5 separate regions of the Homo sapiens genome follow, and regions 1, 2, 3 and 4 are each linked to region 5. Evidence: fine-mapped expression QTL. A gene starts in region 5. Each other region holds a variant in brackets. All regions are shown on one strand. Distances are from middle to middle.

Region 1 (5,000 bases), 190 kb before region 5:
CTGTGCTTTGCTCTCTCAGGTGTTCTCTGAAGACAGAAGCATGTCCATGGCTCATGCCTTCCTCCTCCCTCACAACCAGCCAGCCTGCCCCAGGTTCCACCAGTGCTTCCTTGGCTCACCATTTCCTTCTGACACTTCGGGAGGCCTGGACCCAGCCCTCCTCCTCTCTCCTTGGTCCCACATGGCAGCCTCTTCCCTGGGTCCCTGCCCCCTCTCGTAAGCTCCTCCAGAAAATCTATGAGTTCTTGCCTTCTGGTTTTGTGAGGGGCCTGTCAGCTCCCAGCAAAGTGTCCACAATACCACTAAGAGGGGCTTAATAGCTCTTGAATGAGCAAACCCAGCCAGGAAATACCAAGAATGGCATAATTTTAAATCTGCTTTGGAATTTTGTCTAATTCATATTCCCCGTTGCCCCTATTCTCACCCCCAACCCAGCCTCTGCCAAGACAACCCTTGGGACGGTAGCCTAGCCCAGGTCTGTCTTACTGGTAGGCATGACGGAAAGAGGCTCTAGGTTGCTAAAAATTTCAAAGATCAAGTTCCTTGCTGTAGGCAATAAAGACAAATGTGCACTGGGAAGGCATTCTGTAGTAGGTTATTACATAGCTATATTCAGGACCCTTTCAAACTCTGCAAACTAAATGTCAGGGCAAATAGAAACCCACAAAACAGGTGGCCTATTCTTGCCACAGTAATGCTTCAAAATACAGGAGCTGCCAGTGATGGACTGCTCCACAGGAGTGGTGAAGAGGATGGGTAAGCCACACACATTTTCTGCAGAATGAAAAAGGCATTTGCCACTTCTATCGAAATAGTAACTGAGATAACACTCTTCTAGGAGCAAAGCAAACTAACAACTAGCTTTTAAAAGCATCAGATGTGGAGTCAGGCCTAGGATGTACTTTCAGCTCTGTCACTACGAAACCCAGGGCAAGTTGCCCTTTGTCTTTGGGCCTCAGTTTCCTCATCTGTAATAAGAAGGCATTGAATTAACTACTGCCTGCAGTATCTTTCAGCCCTAAAACTCCAATGGCTCTTCAGAAACAAACCCTTGCAGGCTGGGCGTGGCGGCTCACGCCTGTAATCCCAGCACTTTGGGAGGCCAAGCCGGGCAGATCACTTGAGGCCAGGGGTTTTTCAAGACCAGCTTGGTCTCGAAGACCAAGACATGGTGAGACCCTGTCTCTATTAAAAATACAAAAATTAGCTGGGTGTGGTGGTGGGCGCCTGTAGTCCCAGCTACTTGGGAGGCTGAGGCAGGAGGATGGCCTCAACCTGGGAGGCAGAGGCTGCAGTGAGCTGAGATTGCACCGCTGCACTCCAGCCTGGGCGACACAGTGAGACCCTATCTCAAAAGAGAAAGAAAGGAAGGAAGGAAGGAAGGAAGGAAGGAAGGAAGGAAGGAAGGAAGGAAGGAAGGAAACCTTTGCATGTATAGTCAAATAATTTCTTTTTTTTTTTTTTTTGAGACAGAGTCTCACTCTGTCACCCAGGCTGGAGTGCAATGGCACAATCTCAACTCACTGAAACCTCCGCCTCCTGGGTTCAAATGATTGTTCCACCTCAGCCTCTCAAGTAGCTGGGACTACAGACGTGTGCCACCATGCCCAGCTAAAGTTTGTATTTTTTAGTACAGACAAGGTTTCACCATGTTGGCCAGGCTGGTCTTGAACTCCTGACCTCAGGTGATCTGCCTGCCTTGGCCTCCCAAAGTGCTGGGATTACAGGTGTGAGCCACCATGCCCAGCTGATCAAATGACTTCTGACAAGTGTGCCAAGACCATTCAGTAGGTAAAAAATAGTCTTTTCAACAAATGTTGCTGTGAAAAGTGTGTATCCACATACTGAAGAATGAAATCAAACCTTTACCTAACACCATATACAGAAATTAACTCAAAAGGATCAAAGACTGAAATGTGAGAGCTGAAACTATAAAACAGTTATAAGCAAAACCTTAGTGCAAAAGCTTCACAACATTGGAATTGGCAAACATTTCTTGGGTATGATACCAAAGGTACAGACGATAACAAAAATAGACAAAATGGACTTCGTGAAAATTAAAAAATTTATGCCTCCAAGGACACTATCAACAGAGTAAAAACAAAACCACAGGATGTGAGAAAATATTTGCAAATCATATATATGGTAAGGGATTAATATACAGAATACAGAACTCCTAAAACTCAACAACAAAAAACCCAATCCGATTCAAAAATGGGCAAAGGACTTTAGTAGACATTTATCCAAAGAAGATACACAAATGGCCAATACGTACATGAAAAGATGCTTGGCTTCATTAATCATTAGGAAAATGCAAATCAAAAGCACAATGAGATACCACCTTACACCCACTAGGACGGCTACCATCTAAAAAACTGAAAATAACAAGTGTTGGCAAGGATGTGGAGAATTTAAAACTCAGCGTTGGTGGGAATATAAAATGGTTGAGCAGCTGCTGTGGAAAATAGGGTGGAGGTTCCTCAAAATATTAAAAATAGGATTATTATTATGACCCAGCAATTCCACTTCTGGGCATATACCAGGGTCTCAAAGAGATACGTGTACACCAATATCCATAGCAGCATTGGCTGGGTATGGTGGCTCACAC[C/T]TGTAATCCTAGCACTTTGGGAGACCAAGGTGGGTGGATTGCTTGAGCTCAGGAGTTTGAGACCAGTCTGGGCAACATGGCAAAACCCCATCTCTCTACGAAAAGTACAAAGATTAGCCAGGCATGGTGGCTGGCGCCTGTAGTCCTAGTTACTCAGGAGGCTGAGGTGGGAGAATCACCTGAACCCGGGAGGTTGAGGCTGCAGTGAGCCTTGATTGTGCCACTGCACTCCAGCCTGGGTGAGAGCCTGTCTAAAAAAAAAAAAAAATTAGTTAAATAAAAATAAATAGGGCCAGGTGTGGTGGCTCACGATTATAATCCCAGCACTTTGGGAGGCCGAGGTGGGCTGATCGCGAGGTCAGGAGTTTGAGACCAGCCTGGCCAACATGGTGAAACCCCGTCTCTACTAAAGATACAAAAAATTAACTGGGTGTGGTGGCACATGCCTGTAATCCCAGCTACTCGAGAGGCTGAGGCAGGAGAATCGCTTGAAGCCAGGAGGCGGAGTTTGCAGTGAGCCAAGATTGTGCCACTGCACTCCAGCCTGGGTGACAGGGCGGAGACTTTGTCTCAAAAAAAATAAAATAATAAATAAATAAACATAGCAGCATTGCTCACAATAGCTAAAACATGGAAGACACAAAATGTAGTCTATCCATACAGTGGAATACTGGTTAGCCTTAAAAAGGAAGGAAATTCTATCATATGCTACAGCATGGAAAAACCTGGAAGACATTATGCTAAGGGAAATAGATCAGACACAAAAAGATAAATACCATATGATTCCACTTATATGAGGTACCTAGAATAGTCAAATCCAAACAGACAGAAAGTAGAATGGTGGGAGCCAGGGGCTAAAGGGAGTGAGGAATGGGGAGTTACTGTTTCATGGGTCAAGAGTTTTGGAAAATGAAAGGAGTTCAGGAGATGGATAGGTGGATTATTGCTGGTCATGGATGCACAACAACACTAATATATTTAATGCCACTGAACATTACACTTAAAAGTGGTTAATATGGTAAACGTTATGATATGTGTATTTTGCTACAACAAAAACAAATTTTGGCTGGGTGCCGTGGCTCACGCCTGTAATCCCAGCACTTTGGGAGGCTAAGGTGGGTGGATCACTTGAGGTCAGGAGTTCGAGACCAACCTGGTCAACATGGTGAACCCCCCTGTCTCTACTAAAAATATAAAAATTAGCTGGGCTTGGTGGCATGAGCCTGTAATCCCAGCTACTAGGGAGGCTGAGACATGAAAATCTCTTGAACCTGGGAGGTGGAGGTTGCAGTAAACTGAGATCGTATCACTGCACTCCAGCCTGGGCGACAGAGTAAGAACCTGTTTCAAATAAATAAATAAATAAATAATTAAAAAAAATTAAACCCAATGGTTCTTATCTAAAGCACATATATTAACAAAGAATAGAAGATAATTTAAAATAACATAGGGTAGTAGAGTTTAATATCAAAATTATTTCCCTTGTAAATATATTTATGTTTACAATGTTCTAAAACTTGAGATTCATAAGGAGTAAAAGCAAGAAAAACAAATTCAACCCTGAGCATCATCCTTGTGTCCTTGGTTAACCAAGGGGCCCTCAGTGAGGTCGATCCAGCCCAGGAGATCAGCATTTCCCTCAGCAGTCACCAAGAAGCTATATCCACATAAAGCCAGGGCCTTGTGTGACTCTCCTCCTAGATCCTAGGAAGTTCTCAAAGACTCAATGCCTTCCTTGCATGAAGCCCATGGCAGTTAGGGCAATCAGAGAAAATACTACAGAAGAGAAATGTAAACTTTCAAAAATACAGATGGCTGAAATGTCAAGAACCAGTGAGAGAAACCACTTGGCATATCTAGGGTGTTCAAAGCAGCTTGACTGGCAAGGAGCCAACTTGAAAATAATTATGGTTAATAAGTTTTTAAAAAAGGAAAGATAAAGGACAAAATGGATGAATACATGGAGCATTTCAACAGAATTGGAAATCTATACAAATAATCAAATAGACATTCCAAGATTTAAAAACATATCTGAAGCTAAGAATGCACTGGAGGCTGGGCAGGGTGGCTCATGCCTGTAATCCCAGCACTTTGGGAGGCCAAGGCAGGCGGATCACCTGAGGTCGGGAGTTTGAGATCAGCCTGACCAACATGGAGAAACCCCATCTCTACTAAAAATACAAAATTAGCTGGGCGTGGTGGCGCATGCCTGTAATCCCAGCTACTTGGGAGGCTGAGACAGGAGAATTGCTTGAACCTGGGAGGCGGAGGTTGTGGTGAGCCGAGATCATACCATTGCACTACAGCCTGGGCAACAAGAGTGAAACTCCATCTCAAAAAAAAAAAAAAAAAATGCATTGGATAGGTTTAACGGCAGAATGGATAAAAAGAA
Region 2 (5,126 bases), 60 kb before region 5:
AACTTCTCAATCTCTCATTTACATTTTTCTGACCTCTATGCATAGCCTAGGTGTGAGGTGATGGAAAAAGCTGGTTTAGAGATCAAGATGCTCAAACACAAAAGTCCCCCAAATCCTGAGAGTTTTTTGTTTTTTTAAAAAAATCCTTAAAACATTTAAAGACGCATAAAACTCTTCACCCACTCAGTGGTGCAAAAAATTTACCAATACTAGAAGGGGAGGAGGCTGGCAACGACTGGAAATATTCCCTTTCAAGTAATAAATAATGGTTATTTTGAACCAAATTGCTTTCCACCTCAAGTCCTCCATGGATGGGAGCCTGGAGGATGCAGTGATGGGGGTTATGGAATGGAAAGGAGCGTGGGTAATTGGGTTTGTGAGGATTGGGGCCAGGCAGAGGGAACTGGGGGCTTTTCCAGGACCACTGGGGAACACAGAGGCTGAGAAGGGGAGTGTGGGATGGGTTCGAGCTGGGGAGGACCTCGGCCTCGCCAGGCTCTAAGGAGAGTCACAGCTCACCACCTAGGGCGCTGGGACCACACGATGTCATGCCTGGGAGACTGAAGGGCTAGGACAGATTCTGAGAAAATGTGGACTGGAGATGGGGATTCCAGGTTCTCCCGGGAGTCCAGGCGAGGGAGTTCCGGCTTCAGGGAGTCCCAAGAGCTAGACTGGGAAGGGGCTGGTGCCCAGGACTATGAGAAATCCAGACTCCCCTGGGGTGTGAAAAAGGGCCGAGGTCCGGCTGAGGGAGAGCGAGTCTGAAAGAGTTCGGGCTCCCTTGCGGGTCCGAGAGTCTAACGAAGGCTCTGGGCACCCAGGCCGCACCTGAAGAGCACCAACGACTGCTCGGTCCGCGGCGCGGGAAGGAGATGTGCGGCTGAACCCCTACGCCGATTACTTAGCGGCGGCCCTATCGAGAGGGTGGTTCGAGCCCGAGGTGGCGCCGGTCCCGTAAATCGTGGAGGATCTCAGGTCCCCTGTGACCAAGGGCGTAGTCAGCTGTGTCATGGCGGCTTCCCTGTTCGAGAAACAGTTGGAAACTGGAGGCCGGTTGGGAGTCATGGTCGTTGGGCGCACGGAGGCCGGTTGGAAGCCATGGTCGTTGGGCGCCAGGAGGCCGGTTGAGAGCCGTGCTCGTTGGACGCGCGCAGACCTGGAGTTAGTCCCTGGGCGGAACCTGGAGCCCCGCGCGGCGCGTTGCCTGGGAGACGCATAAGGGGGCGGGGCCGGGGAGGGAGTGTCGCACATGCGCACAGAGCCCGGGCGGCTACGGAAGCGGTGAGACTGTCTCTCGGCTGCAGCCCTGGTGCGACCCGGCCCGTTGCCGTAGAGATGGGCAGGGCTGGATGGAGTGGGGTGCGGTGAGCTGAGCTGACCCTGCTTCGCCACGGGGACTGCAGTGACCCCGGCTTGCCGGCAGGGCGGGTAACAGGTTGAGCCAGGGTGGGGCTGCTCAGGGGCGTGGAGCCGAGGCCAGGATTTCTCTGAAGACCCGGCACAGGCTATTCCTTTCTGCGACGAGCCCATTGCTATGGAAACCAAAGCGTTAGGCCAGCGGGGATTGAGGCTGCGGGATCATGACGGGTCTCTCTCCCGAAGAACCTTGCCTAAGGCTTCCCCAAGCGGCTACTTCCTGAGCGAACCCGCCCACCCGCCTGAAGGAGAGAGGTAAAACCCTGGGGGTCCTGACACTAAGCAGGCGAAGAAGCCTATTCCAATGCCAGCTCCCCTAGGAAACCTACCCGGCCCACCCCTAGAAGTGATGCTTCGCTCTCGTTAACTCTTGGACTTTGTTCCATGTTTATAACTTAGTATTTCACGAACGCCCCGCGGTGTTTGTTCATTTTTCCCACACATAATGGACCATAAAGGTCGGCTTCTTTGCTTTATGACTCGTTCTGAACAAGTCCTTTTCCGCGCTGTGTCTCACTTTCCTCTTTTGTAAAATGGAAATATTAACTCTAGACGCCGGTCTGATTAGGTTGCTTTGAAGATCGAACCAGATGAGGGAAGCCAAATACTTCATAGGCTGTAAAGTGGTGAAGCTGAACTGCTACCGAGTTGCTATTTTTTTCTCCTCCTCCCTCTCAAGCTAAACGTTCTTTAGATCTTTTGTGATTTCTTCAGGTGGTCTTTGCGACTCCCTAGGCTCCGACCTGGAAGAAATCTTTTTTACACTTCCCTTTCACAGAGCCCTGCATTTTAACTTCCCTATCAGAAGCGAGAAAAATAGTTATCATTTTGAGAGGGCTTACTCTATGCCAAGCCCTGAGAAAACTCTTTACGTGGATTATCTCGTTTAATTTCACAACATCCTTTTAAGGTAGGTACTGTTATCCTATTTTCAAGCTCTGTCTGCCTGTAATTGCCTGTTTACTATCTGTTTCTCCCACTAGTCTTTGAGCTCCCTGAGAAAAGGGGCCATGCCTGTCTTGTACATTTCAGTATCTCCAACACCTAATACAGTGCCTGATAGAGATTGCTTTTTTTTTTTTTTTTTTTTTTTTTGAGATGGAGTCT[C/A]ACGCTGTCTCCCAGGCTGGAGTGCAGTGGCACGATCTTGGCTCACTGCAGCCTCCGCCTCCCGGGTTCAAGCAATTCTCCCGTCTCAGCCTCCTGAGTAGCTGGGACTACAGGCCCATGCCACCACGCCTGGCTAATTTTTGTATTTTTAGTAGAGACGGGGGTTTCACCATGTTGGTCAGGCTGGTCTTGAACTCCTGACCTCAGGTGATCTGCCCGCCTCGGCCTTCCAAAGTGCTGGGATTATAGGCTTAAGCCACCGTGCCCAGCCCTGATAGATATTTCTTAACTAGCATGAAAATGACTCCTCGCATCACTACCCTCACCTGCAAGAGCATTGTCACTTCTGCAGACTTTTAGTGGCTATAATGAACAGCACATTCCTCTATTCCCGTTACCCACTGGGCACTGGTTTGGGGGGACATCAGTTCACTTCTCTATGGATTTTCTGATGACGAGGATCCAGAACATTCCTTAGCATTTAGACTTCCATCTGGGTTCAGGAGGCTTTTTCTTTGCCCTTCATATCACCTCTGTAGCAAGCCAGCCCTCTCTGTCCTTCCGGGAATGAGCCTGATGCATTTGAGTCTGGGGCATTGGCAGGTAGGATTTGCCTATACAACCTTTGGTCTTTCTCTTTAGTAGCCTCAGAACCACCCCCATCCCCACCCAGCCCCTCCCTGGAATTCTGGAGACACGCTGCCAGAGAACTCATTCTTTCCAGAAAACCTCTCAGAAGGCAGAGTCATAGCTGTTGGGAGTCATTTCTTCATTCAACAAATATTTATCAAGCACCTACTTGTGGGGACACAGCGCTTGGCACTAGTTGGTGATAGAGTGGGAGTGAAGACAGACACCATCATATCCCTAAAGGGCTCACAGTCTCTTGGGGAGACAGACATTAATCAAATAATCAGACAGATCGGAGCAAAACTACGTCTTCAGTAAGTGTTAGGAAGGAGAGAACATAGGGCTAAGAAAGCCTGGAGCAGAGTTGGTCAAACGTGAGGGAGGGGTGTGATCTAAGGAGATTTCCCTTAAAACAGTTACCTTTAAGTTGATATCTTAAGGCTCCTCAGACTTCTGCAGTCCTCTGCTGAATGGACCAGATCAGGATCTGATGGGTTCATAAGGAAAGAGACTGAGAGATCAGCAGGGGCAAAGGCCACTGGCTGGAGAGGACAGGTTGTCCCTAAGGAACTGTAAGTGGCTCGGTTCACCTGAGGCCCTTCAGAGCATGGAGAAGCCTAATAAGAGGCTGGAGAGACAGGCAGGAGCCAGGTCACAAATGGCCTTGACAGCCAAACTAAGTGGCTCCATCTTATCCTCACAGTGGATAGCCACTGAAATATATTAAGCAGGGAAACAAAACTTTGGCTCCTCATTTCTCGTGCCTGGTGAAGACTGCCACTTGGCCTTGAAAGGTGTGATCTAAATCCAAATGTCCCTATTTCAGCGGAATGTATAAAGATGTCCTGGTTTTTGCAGCTTTGTTTAAGACTGAGAAAGTGAGGGTCCGAGAGTCTAATGAATGCTCTGGGCACCCAGGCCGCACCTGAGGAGCACCGACGACTGCACGGTCTGCGGCGCGGGAAGCAGATCTGCGGCTGAACCTCTACCCCAATTACTTAGCGGCGACTGAGCCTATCGAGCAGGTGAAGGGAAGGGGTCTGCCTCTCCCTGGGGTGTGTTTCACAGCTCTGCTGCAGGCAGCATGATGCAGGTGTGGCAGGTCTTCCTAAGGCCCTGCTGTCTCTGTGCTTGTCCCTGGGGTTGCTGTGGTGCCCATTATGCTGGCTTCCAGGAAGCTTTCAGCCACTCCCTTTCCCAGGCCTTCTTCAGAGGCAAGGTGCAGGAGCATGTCTAACAATTTAGGACTTTGTATTTGACATCAGCTTCGCATGGGCATATCCTGTCTCTTTAAAGAGATGGTTCTTAGAGGGGGAAAATGGGAACCCTCCCTACTCTTATACCAGCCTCCTCAGTGACTGCCAGCACAGTGGGCTCTGGTTCCATGCCACTGGCTCAGGACCTTATGATTTGGGCATAAAGTCAGAAGACTGAGGAGGAAGACTGTACAAATGGTTCCCACTCAGAGGGGCTGGAAGGAAGGAGAGAATTTGGAAGAGCAGCAAGAAAAGGGCTCTGTGAGCTTAAATGGAGAATCAGGCCAAGGCACAGCTGAGGGACACAAGTCATCTGCCCAACTAGAGCTGTGGGACCCCTCAAGGGAGGCCTCAAGTGCCAGACTTGGGGACTTGCCATTTGTCCTATAGGGCAGTGCACATTAGACCACCTGAGAAGCATGCTGAAAATGCAGATTCATGCTCTTCACCCCGAGAGTCTGACTGTGGGTTTGGAGAGGGACCTGGGTATCTGTACTTTAAATGAGTTTGCTGGGTAGTTCTGCTGTGATGGTCAGAGGACTGCCTTGGGGAATGCTATAAGCCTATCCATCCATTTCCCAGGGATCCCCTGGAATTGGCCCTCTGGGCACCTGCCCTCTAAACATCCTCTCCCTCTCTGCAGTTTTCCATGGACACAGCCTAGCAGAAAGACGCAGCCTTCGTGCTTCGCTGACTGCTGACCACTGACCCACCGCC
Region 3 (5,126 bases), 21 kb before region 5:
TGCCTAATGACAGGTGGCTCTGAAGACTATGGATTAAGCAAGCGAGGCCTGGACAGGCCTTGGTGGAATGGAGAGGATGGCACACCTTGGGGTGAAGGGAGTCTGAGGGCAGAGCCCAAAGCAGGTGACCCAGCAGCACCATCCTCCATGGGAGCCCAGAGGGGCCAGGGCACATGGGAGGGGCTGTGGCTTCCTCAGGCCCAGTCTCAGGGGGCAGGGAGGTGGCATGGTACAATGGCAAGTGTCGGCACTGGGGTCCAAGGTGGGGGAATCTCAGCTCTGCCACCCACAGACACCACCTGTGGCCAGGGTGGAGGGCTTCATCCCATCCACTCCTTACTGTTCCTCCTGGAGGCAGGCGCTGTATTATCCCAGTTGCAGATTAGAGGGCTTGGTCAGCTGCAAAAAGCAAGAAGCCAGGGACACGCAGCTTGAGTGGTGGCAGGAGATTTGGACCCGGTCTCCGTGTGGCTCTAGGGCCTCAGCATTTTTTTTTTTTTTAAGATGGAGTCTCACTCTGTCACCCAGGCTGGAGTGCAGTGGCACAATCTCGGCTCACTGCACTCTCCGACACCTGGGTTCAAGCAATTCTCCTGCCTCAGCCTCCTGAGTATCTGGGATTACAGGCGCCTGCCACCACGCCCAGCTAATTTTTGTAGTTTAGTAGAGACAGGGGCTCACCATCTTGGCCAGGCTAGTCTTGAACTCCTGACCTTGTGATTCACTTGCCTCGGCCTCCCAAAGCTTTTTTTTTTTTTTTTTTTTTTTTTTTTTTTTTTTTGAGACAGGGTCTTGCTCTTTCCCCAAGGCTGGAGTACAGTGCAGTGGTGTGATCATACCTCATTGTAGCCTCCAGTTCTTGAGCTCAATTGATCCTCTTGCCTCAGTCTCCCAAGTTGCTAGGATTACAGGCGGGAGCCACTACCCCTGGCTACTTTAAGCCTCAGCTTTTAACCTGCCTTGACCAACAGCCAGCAGGACTCTCAAGAGGATACTCCCACGTGGAAGAATGGGGGGCTAGGGCATTCAGCTCCATTCATGGAGAATGGCAGGGGGCTTCTTTGCATTCCCTTGGGGTTCACCCAAAAGCCCATAGTAGTCTGCCCTTGCCCACAAACTCCCCAAATCCCTCAAATCTGAATGTGCCCTTTGGAGGCCCAGGCTGCTGCTGTGGGAAGCAGGTGATGCAGAGAGGCTTTACGGGATGGGGGCGAGAATCGATTTCTGGCAACCTTGCTGCAAGGCTGAGATGGGCCTCTCCTCTTGTCACTGCATGTGCCAGCAGATCACTCCTGGGGCCTCAGTTTCCCCATGTGATCTATGATGGTATCGCGTGCTATGTAAACCAAAGCACCATCCCACAGCTGTGTTAGGAAACAGGCTTAGTGAGCTGAAGGGGCTTGTCTGGAGCTATTAGAGATCTAAATGCAGGCCTGACATAGACCTGCCTCCCAGTCCCAGATGGAGGGCCTCTGGACTCTTACCCTGTTATCAGGCCACGCACTCAACACGACTGTCCCCTCACTCACACTGTTTCTTGGGATTCCTGCCAATTGTGCCAGACTAGACAACTGACCCAGTGTCCCAGAGACTCAGTGGCGTGGGACACAATCTAAGAGGGAGCTTGAACTGGAAGGAGGCCAAGTCTCTGCCAGGACCATGCCCAGAAGCAGCTGACTGATGGGAAAGAGGCAGAGAAGGCCTGAGGGCAGTGGAGGTGAGGGAGCGCTGAGCTCCAACTTCCATTTCACTACCTCCCTTGGCTGCCCCTGAGTTTGGCAGGCTGGGTCTTTTCAGCAAATATCTTTTTTTTTTTTTGAGACAAGAGTCTCGCTGTTGCCCAGGCTGGAGTGCAGTGGTGCAATATTGACTCAAGCAATTCTTGTGCCTCAGCCTCCTGAATAGCTAGGATTACAGGTGCACATCACCACGCCTGAGCTAATTTTTGTATTTTTAGTAGAGATGGGGTTTCTCCATGTTGGCCAGGCTGATCTTGAACTCCTGACCTCAGGTGATCCTCGTCCTCCCAAAGCGCTGGGATTACAGACGTGAGCCATTGCACCTGGCCCAATATAAAGAAATGTTTTAAATTGCTTACTTCCCCTATCTTCTCAGACCCTAAATGTTTGAAGATGGTGCTCTAGGTGGTTTAATATGCGGCTTCAAGGACTTTGAGTATGTCACCATCTCTTCCAAGGCATGTGGACGCAGACCTGATGGGCTGTTCATCAGAGGGCCCCACTGAGGACAGGACCTCTTCCTAACCTTGGTGGGGTGCAGCATAGGGGGTGCCTCGCTGGGCTGAACCCCCTCTTCAAGAGGGCAGCCCAGAGCCCCTAAGCCCCCAACCAATGAGAGGCAGGATCCCTGCGTCGTGGCTGCCGAGGCCTGGGGTGATGCCCTAATGGTGCCTTGTGGAAAAGCAGGGAGTGAGACCCTAGCTTCTGGGTCCCAGGGCTCCAGTTGAGTTGGGGCTCTGCCATACGATTATAACCATCATCGAAGCCCCTCATTTTCAGTATTTTAGTGGAGGAGCTGCAAGGCTGCCCCAGGCCAGGTCTGTGTCCC[C/A]TGAGCCAGGTTCCCCCAGCATCACTGCCTAGTCTGTGACCTTGGTGAGTCACTTTTCCTTTTTGAGCACCAGTTTCCTGATTTTTTTTTTTTTTTGAGAGTGTTTCTCTTCTTGCCCAAGCTGGAGTGCAATGGCGTGATCTCGGCTCACTACAACCTCCGCCTCCAGGGTTCAAGCAATTCTCCTGCCTCAGCTTCCCAAGTAACTGGGATTACAGGCATGCAGGCATGCAACACCATGCCTGGCTAATTTTTTGTATTTTTAGTAAAGATGGAGTTTCACCATGTTGGCCAGGCTGATCTCAAACTCCTGACCTTGTGATCCACCTGCCTTGGCCTCCTAAAGTGCTGGGATTACAGGCGTGAGCCACCATGCCCGGCCTCCCAGTTTCCTGATTTGTAAAGCACAGATAAAAATGAAAATATCAACAACCTCACAGAGCAGTTCAAGATAGTATCTAGCGAGTGAGTGCTCAGTCATAGTAGTGGGTGCTCAGTCAGTAGTCAATGTCATCACTGCTGGCATTCCCATCACTCCCCCAATGCCCACATGGCGGCTCAGGCACCCTCCACTCCTCCCTGATGGGGTTACTTCCCCCTTCTCTTGTCCCTGCCCCTGCACCTGAGGAGTATGAGGCACCAGGCCACTGTAGCAGGTCCACAGGCCATCAATGCTTTAATTTTGTCAGAGGCAGGCACTGAGCAGCCCTGCTGAGGTCTCCCCAGCTACTGTGCCACAACCAGCTCGGAGCTGCCACTCTAACAGCAGAGTGGAGAGCTGGGGTCAGGGCCATAGCCCCCGGGCTGAGGAGGCCTTCTTGCAGGACCCCAACCACAGAACGAGTGGTCTTCACAACACCTGCGGCCTGCGGACTCCGTTTTTTGCCAAGGAGTCTGAGATGCTTCATGCCCATCAGACCATGGGGTGGCCTTCATGGGAGACCTGCAGGGCCAGGCTGGCCAGACTTGGCCAGAAAGACTTCCCAGGGAAGATGCTTGGCTCTCTGCTCCAAGGTGGGCCATGGTATAGGGCCCTCGAAGGGCTTGTGGCTGGGGTGATCCCAGGGGGCATTGCTCAAAGTGCACAGGAGGTGGCAGCAGGGTCAGGCGAGTTCCTGTTCCAGGGACATCAGGAGGGAGGGTAGAAGCCTAGGGAGTGTGCGAGGCTGCTGGGATGAGGGAGCTCAGGGGCTACCAGCTAACCAGCCTCAGCTCAATGGTTTCTCCATCCTTGGGTCTGTAGTCAGCAATACCTGCAGAAACAGATTGAGCAAGGAGGGGCGAATTGGGCAGAATATCGCACCCCGCAACCTCATCTTCCAGACCCCCCACCCTGAGGCTAGAGTCTGTAAGAATCCACCTGGGGCTTGGTGGTGGGAAGCTGGAACCTCCCTAAAGCCTGCTCAAAGACTCTGAACTCAGCTTCCCACAGGGTTCCTGAGGCCATGACCTCATCTGGTAATAAAAACACCTGACAGGCAGGGCCACTGTCTTTGTAATACCCTAGGGACCATCAGGAAGAGAAACTTGCGCAGTGCAGTCTGGAGAGAGAACCAGGACCACGCAGAAGTCTCCCAGGAGTCAGCTTTCACTCACTACACAGAATCCAGGCTCTAGGAGGACGCCTGGATTCAAGCCCCAGCTCTGTCATTCATTACTGCTGTGACTCTGGACAAGTTATTTAACCTCTGAGTGAGTGTCGCTGCTCTTGTTGGTGATGTGGGAATGCAGCCTGCAGGGGAACTGAAAGGGCCCTTTGAGATAGCCAGGTGTCAGAAATGTTTCCTTTCAATGGAGGTGCTATGGTCTAAAATGTCTGTGTCCCCCCAAAATGTATATGTTAAAACCTAACCCCAAAGGTGATGGTATCAGGAGGCCTTAGGGCCTTTGGGAGATGATTAGGTCATGAGAGTAGAGCCTCATCAATGGGATAGGAAAGTGCCATTATAGGCCGAGCAGGGTGGCTCATACCTAGAATCCCAGCACTTTGGGAGGCCAAGGCAGGCAGATCACTTGAGTTCAGAAGTTCGAGACCAGCCTATGCAACATGGTGAAACCACATTTCTACTAAAAATACAAAAAATTAGCTGGGCTTTGTGCCATGGGCCTATGGTCACACGTACTCAGGAGGCTGAGGTGGGAGGATCGCTTAAGCCAGGGAGGCAGAGGTTGCAGTGAGCTGAGATTGTGATACTGCACTCAGCGTGGGTGACAGAGTGAGACCCCCATCTCAAAAAAAAAAATTTTTAAGTACCATTATAAAAGAGGTTCCTTCAGCAGGCAAGGGCCAGGAAAATATTTTTTTTTTTTAAATTAAAAAACAAGGCCCCAGAAAGTTGCCATGTTCCTTCCACCATGTGAGAACACAGCCAGCAGGTAACACCAGAAAGTGGGCCCCCATCAGACACTGAATCTGTCAGTGTCCTGATCTGGGACTGCCCACCCAACCTCCAGAACTGTTAAGAAATACATTTCTGTTATTTTATTTCATTTTGAGATGGAGTTTCACTCTTGTTGCCCAGGCTGAAATGCAATGGCGTGATCTCAGCTCACGGCAA
Region 4 (5,126 bases), 43 kb after region 5:
CAAGTGCCTGAACTGAGTCCTAGGGTTCCTGGGGCTTAGGGCCAGGGCACCTAGAACTGCCTCTTCTGCCAAGGCCTTGGGGAAGATCTGCATCTCCAATCAGCCCAAATCCTGCAGAGCTGGTCGAGTGTCTGGGTATCACCATTCCTCACCCAGGGATAGAGGCAGGACACCCTCTCTGATGAAAGATTTAGAGCTCAGGAAGTGAAATCTTGCCAGACTCATCTTCTGAGCCCTGGTCAGATGCTCTGCCTCCTGGAAGCCTTCCAGGCTGAGTTAGTTGTTCATTCTTCTGGGTTCCCACAGATTTTAGATAAACCTTGGTCCCTGGTTGTGTCTCAGCATCTTTAAGCCCTGGAGTTTGGCAAGTCTGCGTATGTACTCCAGCTCTGTCTGCCCTCTACTAGCTGCGTGACCTTGGGCAGGTGACGTTACCTCTCTGAGCTTTGGTTTCTTTACCAGGAGGGTAGACTAACAGGGGTGCTTGATGCATCAGCTGTGAGACTTAAATGAAATGCAATAGGTGGGGCAATTAGCCCTCTGGCACCCCAGCCCACCTGCACCTCTCTGTCCCTCACTCAGCCTTAGAGCCTGTTCTGGGCTCTCTGCAGGCGTCTGCGGTTGCTGTGTCCTTGGCCCAAGGATACCTGGAATCTTTCTGTGCCCTTGGATGAAAGAGCTGCTTGCTTGTTGGGGTCCAAAGAGAGGTGAGGACTGGCCAGAGCTGTCCAGTGGAGGCAGAAGGCCTGGGCAACACCTGCAGGGTACTGGGGTGTGCCACCTGCTATCCCCAGGAAGCAAACTCATGAATATTCACACCACTGGAGTGGGAGGGAGCCAGCCAGCTTGCTGCTGGGTGTCATTGGAGCATTCCTGTCTCCCAGTGATCGCAGAGGCAGCCTGGGAGTTGGACGTGGCTCAGGCAGTGGGTAGAAAGGGGCAGCCAGCCACAGCCCGAGGTGAGTGTGTCTCTTTTGCTCCACCACAGGGGTTACAGGGAAAGTAGGATACCCTGAGACCTGACTGGTGGTGATGCTCTAAGCCAGAAGGTTTACCATCCTGGGCTGAGTTTCCCTTTGTGCATGATGTGGGGGAATAAGTCCTGTTTCTCCTTCATTCCCTGGAGGGCATCAGTTCAGCTAAACAGGAGGATGGCTGGGCCTGGCCTGCTGCCAGCTGCCTGCACTGATGCAGGCCAATGTGATGGGCGTAATCTAGAAGGGCAGGAATAGATGGAGTGGGCTGGTGACGGGGGGACCGTCCATCCTGAGTGCCTGCAGTTGTCACTACTGTGGGTGGAGGAGGTGGGAGACCCAGGTTCTAGTCCTGTCTCTGCTGCTGCTGGGCTGTGTTACCCCAAAGGTATCCTTGCCCTCTCTGAGTCTGAGCCTCCCTGCCTCTTTGTCTTCTGACCCTGAGGCTAGGAGTCTCTGGCTACATTGAGATCATCCCTGGACTTGGCTGCCTGCAAGCCTCCATCGTGGGCCAGTGGGCACACACTTTGATGGGGTTGTGGCTGGGACCCTGGGAACGTAATGATGATAATGATGATAACAATGATGGCAGGCCCTGCTGAGTGACTGTCTGCTCTGCACCAGCCTCGGGCTGGGTGCTTTCCCTGTGGAATGCAGAGGATCTGCACAGCACCCTGTGATGGAGGGTCAGCTGGTACAGGTTGAGTATCCCTTATCCGAAATGCTTGGGACCAGAAGTGTTTCGGATTTCAGATTTTTCAGATTTTGAAATATATGCATATATGTAATGAGATATCTTGGAGATGGAACCCAAGTCTAAACATTTAAGTTTAGAAAGAATTTATGTTTCTTTCTTTCTTATTGATTTTATTGTTTAAGCTTTTTTTTTTTTTTGAGACGGGGTCTCGCTCTGTCGCCCAGGCTGGAGTGCAGTGGAGTGATCTCGGCTCGCTGCAAGCTCCGCCTCCTGGGTTCACGCCGTTCTCCTGCCTCAGCCTCCTGAGTAGCTGGGACTACAGGTGCCTGCCACCAAGCCTGGCTAATTTTTTTTTGTATTTTTAGTAGAGATGGGGTTTCACTGTGTTAGCCAGGATGGTCTCGATCTTCTGACCTCATGATCCACTCACCTCGGCCTCCCAAAGAGCTGGGATTACAGGCATGAGCCACTGTGCCCAGCCTAATTTTAATTTTTTTGAGATAGGGTCTTGCTCTGTAGCCCAGGCTGGAGTTTAGTGGCACGATCATGGCTCACTGCAGCCTCGACCTCCCAGGTTCAGGTGATACTTCCGCCTCAGCCTCCCCAGTAGCTGGGACTACAGGCATGCACCACCATGCCTGGCTAATTTTTGTATTTTTTGTAGAGATGAGGTCTTGCCATGTTGGTCAGGCTGGCCTCAAACTCCTGAGCTCAAGTGATCCTCCTGTGTCTGTCTTTCAAAGTGCTGGAATTACAGGCATGAGCCACCACACCCCATCTTCATGTATGTTTCTTATACACATAGCCTCAAGGTAGTTTTATTTTTCCCTTCAGGATGCTAAATAAACCTGCGCTTTGACTGAGACCTGTCACGTGAGGTCAGGTATGGAATTTTCCATTTGTGGTGTCATGTAGGCATTCAAAAAGTTTTGGATTTAGGGACATTTCAGATTTCAATTTTTATTTTTATTATTTTTTAATCCATTTATTTATTTTTGAGAAAGAGTCTCTCTCTGTCACCCAGGCTGGAGTGCAATGGCGCAATCTCAGCTCACTGCAACCTCTGTCTCCCA[G/A]GTTCAAGCAATTCTCCTGCCTCAGCCTCCCAAGTAGCTGGGATTACAGGTGCGCACCACCACACCCGGCTAATTTTTTGTATCTTTAGTAGAGACGGTGTTTCAGCATGTTGGCCAGGCTGGTCTTGAACTCCTGACCTCGTGATCTGCCTGTCTCGGCCTCCCAAAGTGCTGGGATTACACCGGGCCTGGCCCATGGGAGCTTTTACATGCATGTGCCTCACATGTATTACTTTCGTCTGTAGGTCTCCTACACAGGATCTCTCCTGTGTCTCAGTGAGGTGTTGTCTGCCTGGACCATGTCCTCATCCACATTCTCTGCACGGGCTCTATAGCCCTGGACACCTTCTGCCCTGAGGGTCATGGGAAGTCATTCATCACACATTCACCAGGTGCCAGGCTCGGGGAGCTCAGGGATGAGTCACTGGTAGGCTTGCCTGCAGCGGGGCATGGAAGGGACCTCACCTCTGGCACGCCGGTGAACCAAGGCTGGGTCAGAGTCAATGGTATGATAATAATTAATATGAGTTGATCTCCTGGGTACGTGCATTATCTCAGTCTCACAGCCTTAGGGCATGGCATGGTGGCTTACACCCAGCACTTTGGGAGGTGGAGGTGGGAGGATCACTTGAGGCCAGGAACTCAAGATCAGCCTGCAACATAGTGAGAGCCCCCATCTCTACAAAAAATTAAAAACTTAGCTGGGCATGGGTGGTATGCACTTGAGCGGCCGAGGTGGGAAATTCACTTGAGGCCAGGTGTTCGAGACCAGCCTGGGCAGTAGAGTGAGACCCCCATCTCTACAAAATTTTTTTTAAAAAGTAGCCAGGCATGGTGGTGCATGCCTGTTAGTCCTAGCTACTCAGGAGGCCGAGGCAAGAAGATCCACTGAGCCCAGGATTTCAAGGCTGCAATGAGCTATGATCGTGCCACTTCACTTCAGCCTGGGTGATGGAGCAAGATCCTGTCTTTTTAAAAAAATTATCTCATAGCCTAGTGACTGTTCTCCCTCAAGCCAGGCTCCTGGCTGCCAGCTAGCTCCTCTCCCGACCTCAGTCTGCCCAGGGGCTCTGCCTGTGATTACAGAGCGCTCTGTGTGCCTTGATCTTGCTGTTGTGTGTCCATTGCACACACGAGGAGACTGAGGCTTAGGGAGGGTGAGGTTCATAGCTTCATGCCTAAGTTTACAGTAGCTAGGCAGGAAAGGCACAACCAGCCTTGGACCCCTCAGGTGGCTGGCACGGGAGGGACGGACACCAGGGCCCCCTCTGCTTTCCCTCCCCTTATCCTGGCCGCAGGCTCAGCCCACAGAGACGGGACCCTGCTGTGCTCCCAGGATAGAGCTTCCTGTCCAACCCCACATCCCCCACTTCCTGCAATGCAACTTTCCCTCCTTCCTTCCCCTGGGCTTGGGACAGGGCTTAGGACACACCAGGCAGGGGCTGCCATGGACAAAGCAGGAAGCAGCACATTGGAGTTCCATAGACCTGGGCTCTAATTCCAGCCCTGCCCCCGCTTTGCTGAATGACCCTGGACAAGTTATGTCACCTCCTGGAACCTCACCTTTCCCATCTACCAAATGGGGGTGACAGCAGGGTGGGGGGTGGAGTGGTATCCACTGAGTGGTTGCTGAGTAGGGTCAGTTAGATGCTCTGGAGAGGCAGGCCCCTGCTTTGGGCCTGGCTCCTAACAGGGGCTCAAAAGTAAAACTAGGAGGGATAGCCCAAGGTTCAGTGGCTGGCAGCACCCAGCACGTGTGGCAGGGGCCTGGCAAGCTTTGAGAAATAGCAAATGGGGGCCAGGCTCAGTGGCTCACGCCTGTAATCCCAACACTTTGGAAGGCCAAGGCGGGTGGATCGCTTGAAGTCAGGAGTTTGAGACCAGCCTGGCCAACATGGTGAAACCCCGGCTCTACTAAAATGCAAAAATTACTTGAGTGTGGTGGTGGGCACCTGTAGTCCCAGCTACTCGAGAGGCTGAGGCAGGAGAATCACTTGAACCCAGGAGGTGGAGGCTGTAGTGAGCCGAGATCACACCACTGCACTCCAGCCTGGGCAACATAGGGAGACACCGTCTCAAAAACAAACAAAAGAGCAAATGGGAGAATGAAACCAGTGAGTGAATGAGTGAATGAGTGTACCAGTAATGGGGTTGGGGGGGTGCGGGTGGAGGAACTGTCCTGGGCGGGGCCAGGTGGAGCCTGATTGGCGGGGCAGGGAGGCTGGTCTGCCCCCTGCTGCTGGGCCTGAACCTCAGCGCCTCCACTATTGCAGCCTCCCTGATTCCAGAAGGTACCTTGGTGAGTGGGGCTGCTGGGGCCGGGGTGGGTCCTTGGGATTTCCAGAGGGCAAGCCACAGGAATCCTAATCCCTCCTCATCTTT
Region 5 (5,126 bases):
AGAAAGAGAAAAGGAAGCACAGGAGCCCACTTTGCATTAGCGTTTGTGCAGCGATCCCTGTCAATTTCACAACATACATATAGAGCTTTAAACTGGGAGAGCAGGTGTCATGGGATCCTTCCTTGTACTACACCGAGGAGGAAGGCAGGGGAGCATTCTTAGCCCACTTTACAGATAAAGGAATGAGGCTGGGTGCAATTAAGTGACTCAGTGCAGATATTTGCACCCCAAACCCCAGTTCAAGATTCCCCAGACCCCAAGGGATTGGGGCTCCTGTGGGGTCAGGTTAATGGACTAACTGTCCAAGGCTGAGGACCAGATCAGCCAGGAGGAAGAGCTCTTGCTGGTTGAACCCAGAACTCCCCTGGGGACTGTCCGGACATGAACCAAGAGCTGGGGTTCCTGGGCCCAGACCTGAGGTGTCTGATTGCATTTATGGAACACAGATGAGAGGCTTGGAGTTCTGGCCGGGCACGGTGGCTCACGCCTGTAATCTCAGCAATTTGGGAGGCCGACGCAAGAGTTTCACTTGAGCCCAGGAGTTCGAGACCAGCCTGGGCAACATGGCGAAACCCTGTCTCTACAAAAAAATACAAAAATTAGCCAAGCATGGTAGTATGCACATGCAGTCTCCAGCTACTTGGGAGGCTGAGGTGGGGGAATCACTTGAACCCACAAGGCAGAGGCTGCAGTGAGCCAAGATCGTGCCACTGCACTCCAGCCTGGGCAACAGAGGGAGAACCTCTCTCAACAAAAAACAAAACGAAAACAAACGAGGCTTCAAGTTCTAAAAACTAAGTTCAGCAAAGCTCTGGAAAAGGTGGAGCACCCTGAGTGGGTCACTCAGCCCCTCCAACCCTCGACTTCTTCACTTGACACCTGGACATGACTGCACCCACCTCTCAGGGTTTCCCCAGGGTCTCAAGAGACCATGGGGGTGAAAGTGTATTGCTCAACGTAATCCTAGGTGCAGAGGAGGAGAAAAGGCGCGTGGGCGGCCCAAAGTTCCCAAAGCCTGCCTTCTGCCTCCTGTCTGAAGGAGCAGCCCTGAGCCTCTAAGCTCAGACTCATAGACAGGTCCCAGGAGACTGTGCTCCAAGAGACCCCTTGGGGCACAGAGCTGGAGCAGGCAGGACCTCCGAAGGCTCACTTCCTGCTGCCTAGAATGTGTGTCCCCCACTCCTTTCCTGCCAGCTCCTTTTCTTCCTTCGAGTTTCAGCTCCCATGTGTCCTCTTGGTCTTCAGAAAGTCTTCCCCATGCCCAGCTATTTTTTAATTTTTTTTATTTTTTGTAGAGATGGGGTCTCCCTATGTTGCCCAGGCTGACCTTGAACTGTTGAGCTCAAGCGATCCTCCCCTCCCGCCTCAGCCTTCCAAAATGCTGAGATTTCAGGTGGGAGCACCTAACCATTTCTTTTGTCTGTCCCCCTTCCCTAGAACATAAGCTCTAGGATGGCAGGGATTAGACTTGTCTCATGCTTTGCACGTTCCCCAAAGGCTAACACTGGGCCTGACACAGAAAAGGCTCAGTATGCGCTGAATGAATGTGTGAACGAATGACTGAATTAACGGAGATCTTGTCTGGTGAGGAGTCAAACATATAATCAATCACAATAGGATGTGTTAAATGCTGAGGTCCAGCTAAGCCCAAACTGCTATGGGAGCTTAGAAGGGCAGGTAAGTTCCCTCATCCTATGCCCTAGCCACCCCACTAAGGACCCAGGAGGAAAGAGGCACAGGATAGAGGCGAGTTACTCACCACACATCTCAGTGAGGGCCCCCAGGACCCCCAGAAGGAAGAGGAAGGCCCCAAGGTGCCTCATGGCAGCAGCAGGTGGGTGAGCAGTGAGCAAGAATCGGGAAAGACTCCTGGGGCTGGCCCTGCTGAGGCTCTCCTGACCACAGCTGGTCACCGCTCCGAGAGACGCAGCTTCCTGTCACTGATTAATCCTCCATGCCTGCAATGCACGGCTAAGTCTGCAGAGGGGTGGGGCGGGGGAAGGTCTGTGGTGGCGGGGAACATAAGGCCAAAGAACAGAGGAAGGAAGGGCAGAGCAGCCCTCCTGGAGGTAGGGAACAAAGGGAGGAGGAGGGCTAGTGGGACCATGTGAGACATCTTGAGGCCATTCACGTTCCTGCTTAAAGAGCCCGGGACCAGCGCAGAGGGCCTGATGCCTGATCTGTCAAGTCTGTCCGACCGTGCCTGTCTGCTGTCCCCCCAGCTGTTCCAGTGGTGGATTGGCAGGACCGGGTGCCTACCCGGTACTCCTTACCAAAGGAGCCCCTGGTAGTGCCCACCTAGCCCAGGACAAGGAGTGGAACGGGAGCTGCAGCTGCAGTGGTCACGTGAGCAGCATTGCTGGAGTCAGCTGTTTTTCAGCACCGCCTCCCTCAGTTGTGGCGGGAGGGGATTGTGGGGGTGGGGGAGTTGGGCAGTTGGGGAGGGGGAGTTGGGCAGTTCGGTGGGGGGGGGGAGTTGGGCAATTGAGGGGAGGGTGGGTGCCGCTGGCCCCAGACCAGCCAGGCCACTTTTCTCAACCAATCCGAAAGGGCTGGGAGCCTCCTGGAGAGGACAAAACAAAACAAGTTAAAGAATGGGATTAAGTCCGGGCACGGTGGCTCACACCTGTAATCCTAGCACTTTGAAAGGCTGAGGCGGGCAGATCACTTGAGCTCAGGAGTTGGAGACCAGCCTGGGCAACATGGGGAAACACTGTCTCTACAAAAACACAAAAAACACATACAAAAAACCATAAATTAGCCTGGCGTGGTGGCAGACGTCTGTAATCCCAGCTACTTGGGGGGCTGAGGCAGGAGGATCGCTTGAACCCAAGAGGTGGAGGCTACAGTGAGCCAAGATTACACCACTGCACTCCAGCTTGGGTGACAAAGTGAGACCCTGTCTCAAAAATAAAATAAAATAAAAAGAATGAGATTGAATCGAGACACAAAGCTACCAGAAGCAGGGGTACTTGCCAGAACTCGGAAAGTAACCTCAAAAAAAATCTCTGCAAACAGGGAAGAGAACAAAAGATTCCTCATCTGCCCAGCCCCACAGGAGAATCAATGTATACGAGTTAACTAGTGGTGGCTGTGTGACTTTGGCCAGGTCACTTAACCTCTCGAGTTTAAAATAGTTCTTCCTGTGTGAGAAGAGAGGGTTAGGCAAGATCATCCTAACAGTTCCCTTTCAGCTCAATTTGTGAAGACACTATGACCTTAAAATATCTCCAATCATTTCCATGCACAATCTGCATTGCAATTATTTTATGGTAAATTGCCAAGGTTCACTCTTTTAAGACAATCTTTTTGAGCCTGATTTATCACAAACCAAGCCCTTGACATAAATAAATACAGCAACGTGTGTCTGTTTACGGAACTACTTGAAAATTTTAAATGATAGGTTGTCCAGTCAGAAAGGCTGGATGTGGCCACTAGGAGGAGCACCCCTGGAGGTTCTGAGGAAGGAGGGAGGCCAGTGGGGAGCCCAACTTCCGCAGAACCGCACGTTTGGACCTTCAGGGGAGTCATGGTGAAGTGTGTGCAATGGAGCCACCTTGGTCCTGGGTGGGACTGCCTTGGCTCCCCCAACCCTCTGCCTGTTTCCAGTAACAACTATTATGATTCCTATTTCCAGGAAGGCAGCCTGGAGGAGGTGGCCATGGAGGATAGCCTTCGTTATCGTCAGCCTCTGGTGAGAAGCAGCAGCATCCTTCCAGAGAGTCACTTCTGATCCCCAAGGTAGTTAGGGTGTCGAAGTAAAGGAGGGAGACACCCCCCTGCCTACCTACCTGGACTCAGTGCTAGAGGGTGGGGGAGTAGGAATAGGAAGACAGCATATTTCCCATACATATTAGAAATACTGGTGGCTCATGCCTGTAATCCCAGCACTTTGGGAAGCCAAGGCAGGAGGATTGCTTGAGCCCACAAGTTTGAGACCAGTCTAGGCAAGATGGTGAGACCCTGATTCTAAAAAACAAACAAAACCAAAAAATGCCAGGGATGGTGGTGTGTGCCTGTAAGTCTCAGCTAATCTAGAGGCTACAAGTGGGAGGATCACTTGAGCCCAGGAGGCTGAGGTTGCAGTGAGCTGAGATCAGACCACTGCACTCCAGTCTGGGCGACAGAAGGAGACCCTGTCCTAAAAATAAAGTAAAATTAAAAAAAGAAATAGAGTGACTGGTCAGGGGTAGTGCTATTTCAGGTCATGTGGTCAGGGAATGTGAAAAACAAAAATGATTACATCATTTAGATCAGGATTTCTATTTTTTTTATTTTTGAACTCCTGGGCTCAAGCGATCCTCCTGTCTCAGCCTCCCAAAGAGCTGGGATTACAGGCATGAACCACTGCACCTGGCCAGATCAAGATTTCTATTTGTGGTGAAAACTAGCTTGGAATGAGAAAGTAAAAGTCTGCCTGTGCTCCCACTAGACTGGGATAACAGGGACCTCTAAAGCCAGCTGCAAGCCAGCTGCAACATCAACAGGAAACATTTCTTATTTTTTCTTATTTATTTATTTTTTTTGAGACAGGGTCTCACTCGTTGCCCAGGCTGGAGTGCAATGGCATGATCTCGGCTCACTACACCCTCCTCCCGGGTTCAAGCGATTCTCCTGCCTCAACCTCTTGAGTAGCTGACATCACAGGCATGCGCCACCACCCCCAGCTAATTTTTGTATTTTTAGTAGAGACAGGGTTTCACCCTGTTGGCCAGGTTGGTCTCGGACTCCTGACCTCAAGTGATCTGCCTGCCTCAGCCTCCCGAAGTATTGGGATTACAGGCATGAGCCAGCGCGCCTGGCCAACAGGAAACATTTCTATCAAGGCCATGCATGCTACAGCTATTTGGGTGACTACTACTTTTTTTACTGATTATTTATATTTTTCCCCCTAAAAGCACAAGCAATCAGAAATTTGCTGTTTGATATCCTATTAGTAAGAACAGAACATCCCACTGTTGCCTAAAAGAGCTATGTCATTTTGACACAGACAAGCAGTCTCAGATAAGGTGTTTCTGGACTCAGCATTCCACATTTTTCTTAACTTTGTAGTTTCCAAGGAAACAAGACTCTAGGTCCACTTTGCCGTCCAGACCTGAAGCGGACCCTTCATACACAGCCCTGTG

What was found. PIP is the estimated chance that this variant, and not a neighbour inherited with it, causes the effect.
Region 1: its variant is the best candidate, but not a certain one, in a credible set for the expression of TCN2 in whole blood (INTERVAL, PIP 0.89).
Region 2: its variant is the best candidate, but not a certain one, in a credible set for the expression of TCN2 in atrial appendage (GTEx, PIP 0.65).
Region 3: its variant is the best candidate, but not a certain one, in a credible set for the expression of TCN2 in whole blood (TOPMed, PIP 0.61).
Region 4: its variant is the best candidate, but not a certain one, in a credible set for the expression of TCN2 in subcutaneous fat (FUSION, PIP 0.85).

What each region holds. Positions count from the first base shown.
Region 1 is chr22:30,795,480-30,800,479 of GRCh38, reverse strand. All of the region lies in intron 2 of OSBP2 (oxysterol binding protein 2), which reads right to left. Among named protein-coding and RNA genes, the nearest start is that of MIR3200, 66 kb to the right of the region's middle. The variant C/T (reference allele first, on the strand shown) is at 2,609.
Region 2 is chr22:30,664,007-30,669,132 of GRCh38, reverse strand. It overlaps DUSP18 (dual specificity phosphatase 18), which reads left to right and starts at 1,258. Exons shown (of 2, transcript NM_152511.5): 1 at 1,258-1,671; 2 at 5,053-5,126. It also overlaps a transcript of SLC35E4 not described here. RefSeq lists an enhancer at 771-1,160. The variant C/A (reference allele first, on the strand shown) is at 2,524.
Region 3 is chr22:30,625,155-30,630,280 of GRCh38, reverse strand. It overlaps TCN2 (transcobalamin 2), which reads right to left. Exons shown (of 9, transcript NM_000355.4): 9 at 3,010-3,821. The coding sequence ends at 3,760. Among named protein-coding and RNA genes, the nearest start is that of SLC35E4, 8.1 kb to the left of the region's middle. The variant C/A (reference allele first, on the strand shown) is at 2,569.
Region 4 is chr22:30,560,658-30,565,783 of GRCh38, reverse strand. All of the region lies in intron 1 of GAL3ST1 (galactose-3-O-sulfotransferase 1), which reads left to right. Among named protein-coding and RNA genes, the nearest start is that of GAL3ST1, 11 kb to the left of the region's middle. RefSeq lists a silencer at 155-355. The variant G/A (reference allele first, on the strand shown) is at 2,745.
Region 5 is chr22:30,604,029-30,609,154 of GRCh38, reverse strand. It overlaps TCN2 (transcobalamin 2), which reads right to left and starts at 1,981. Exons shown (of 9, transcript NM_000355.4): 1 at 1,760-1,981. The coding sequence starts at 1,823. It also overlaps a transcript of PES1 not described here. RefSeq lists enhancers at 1,819-2,113, 1,616-2,195.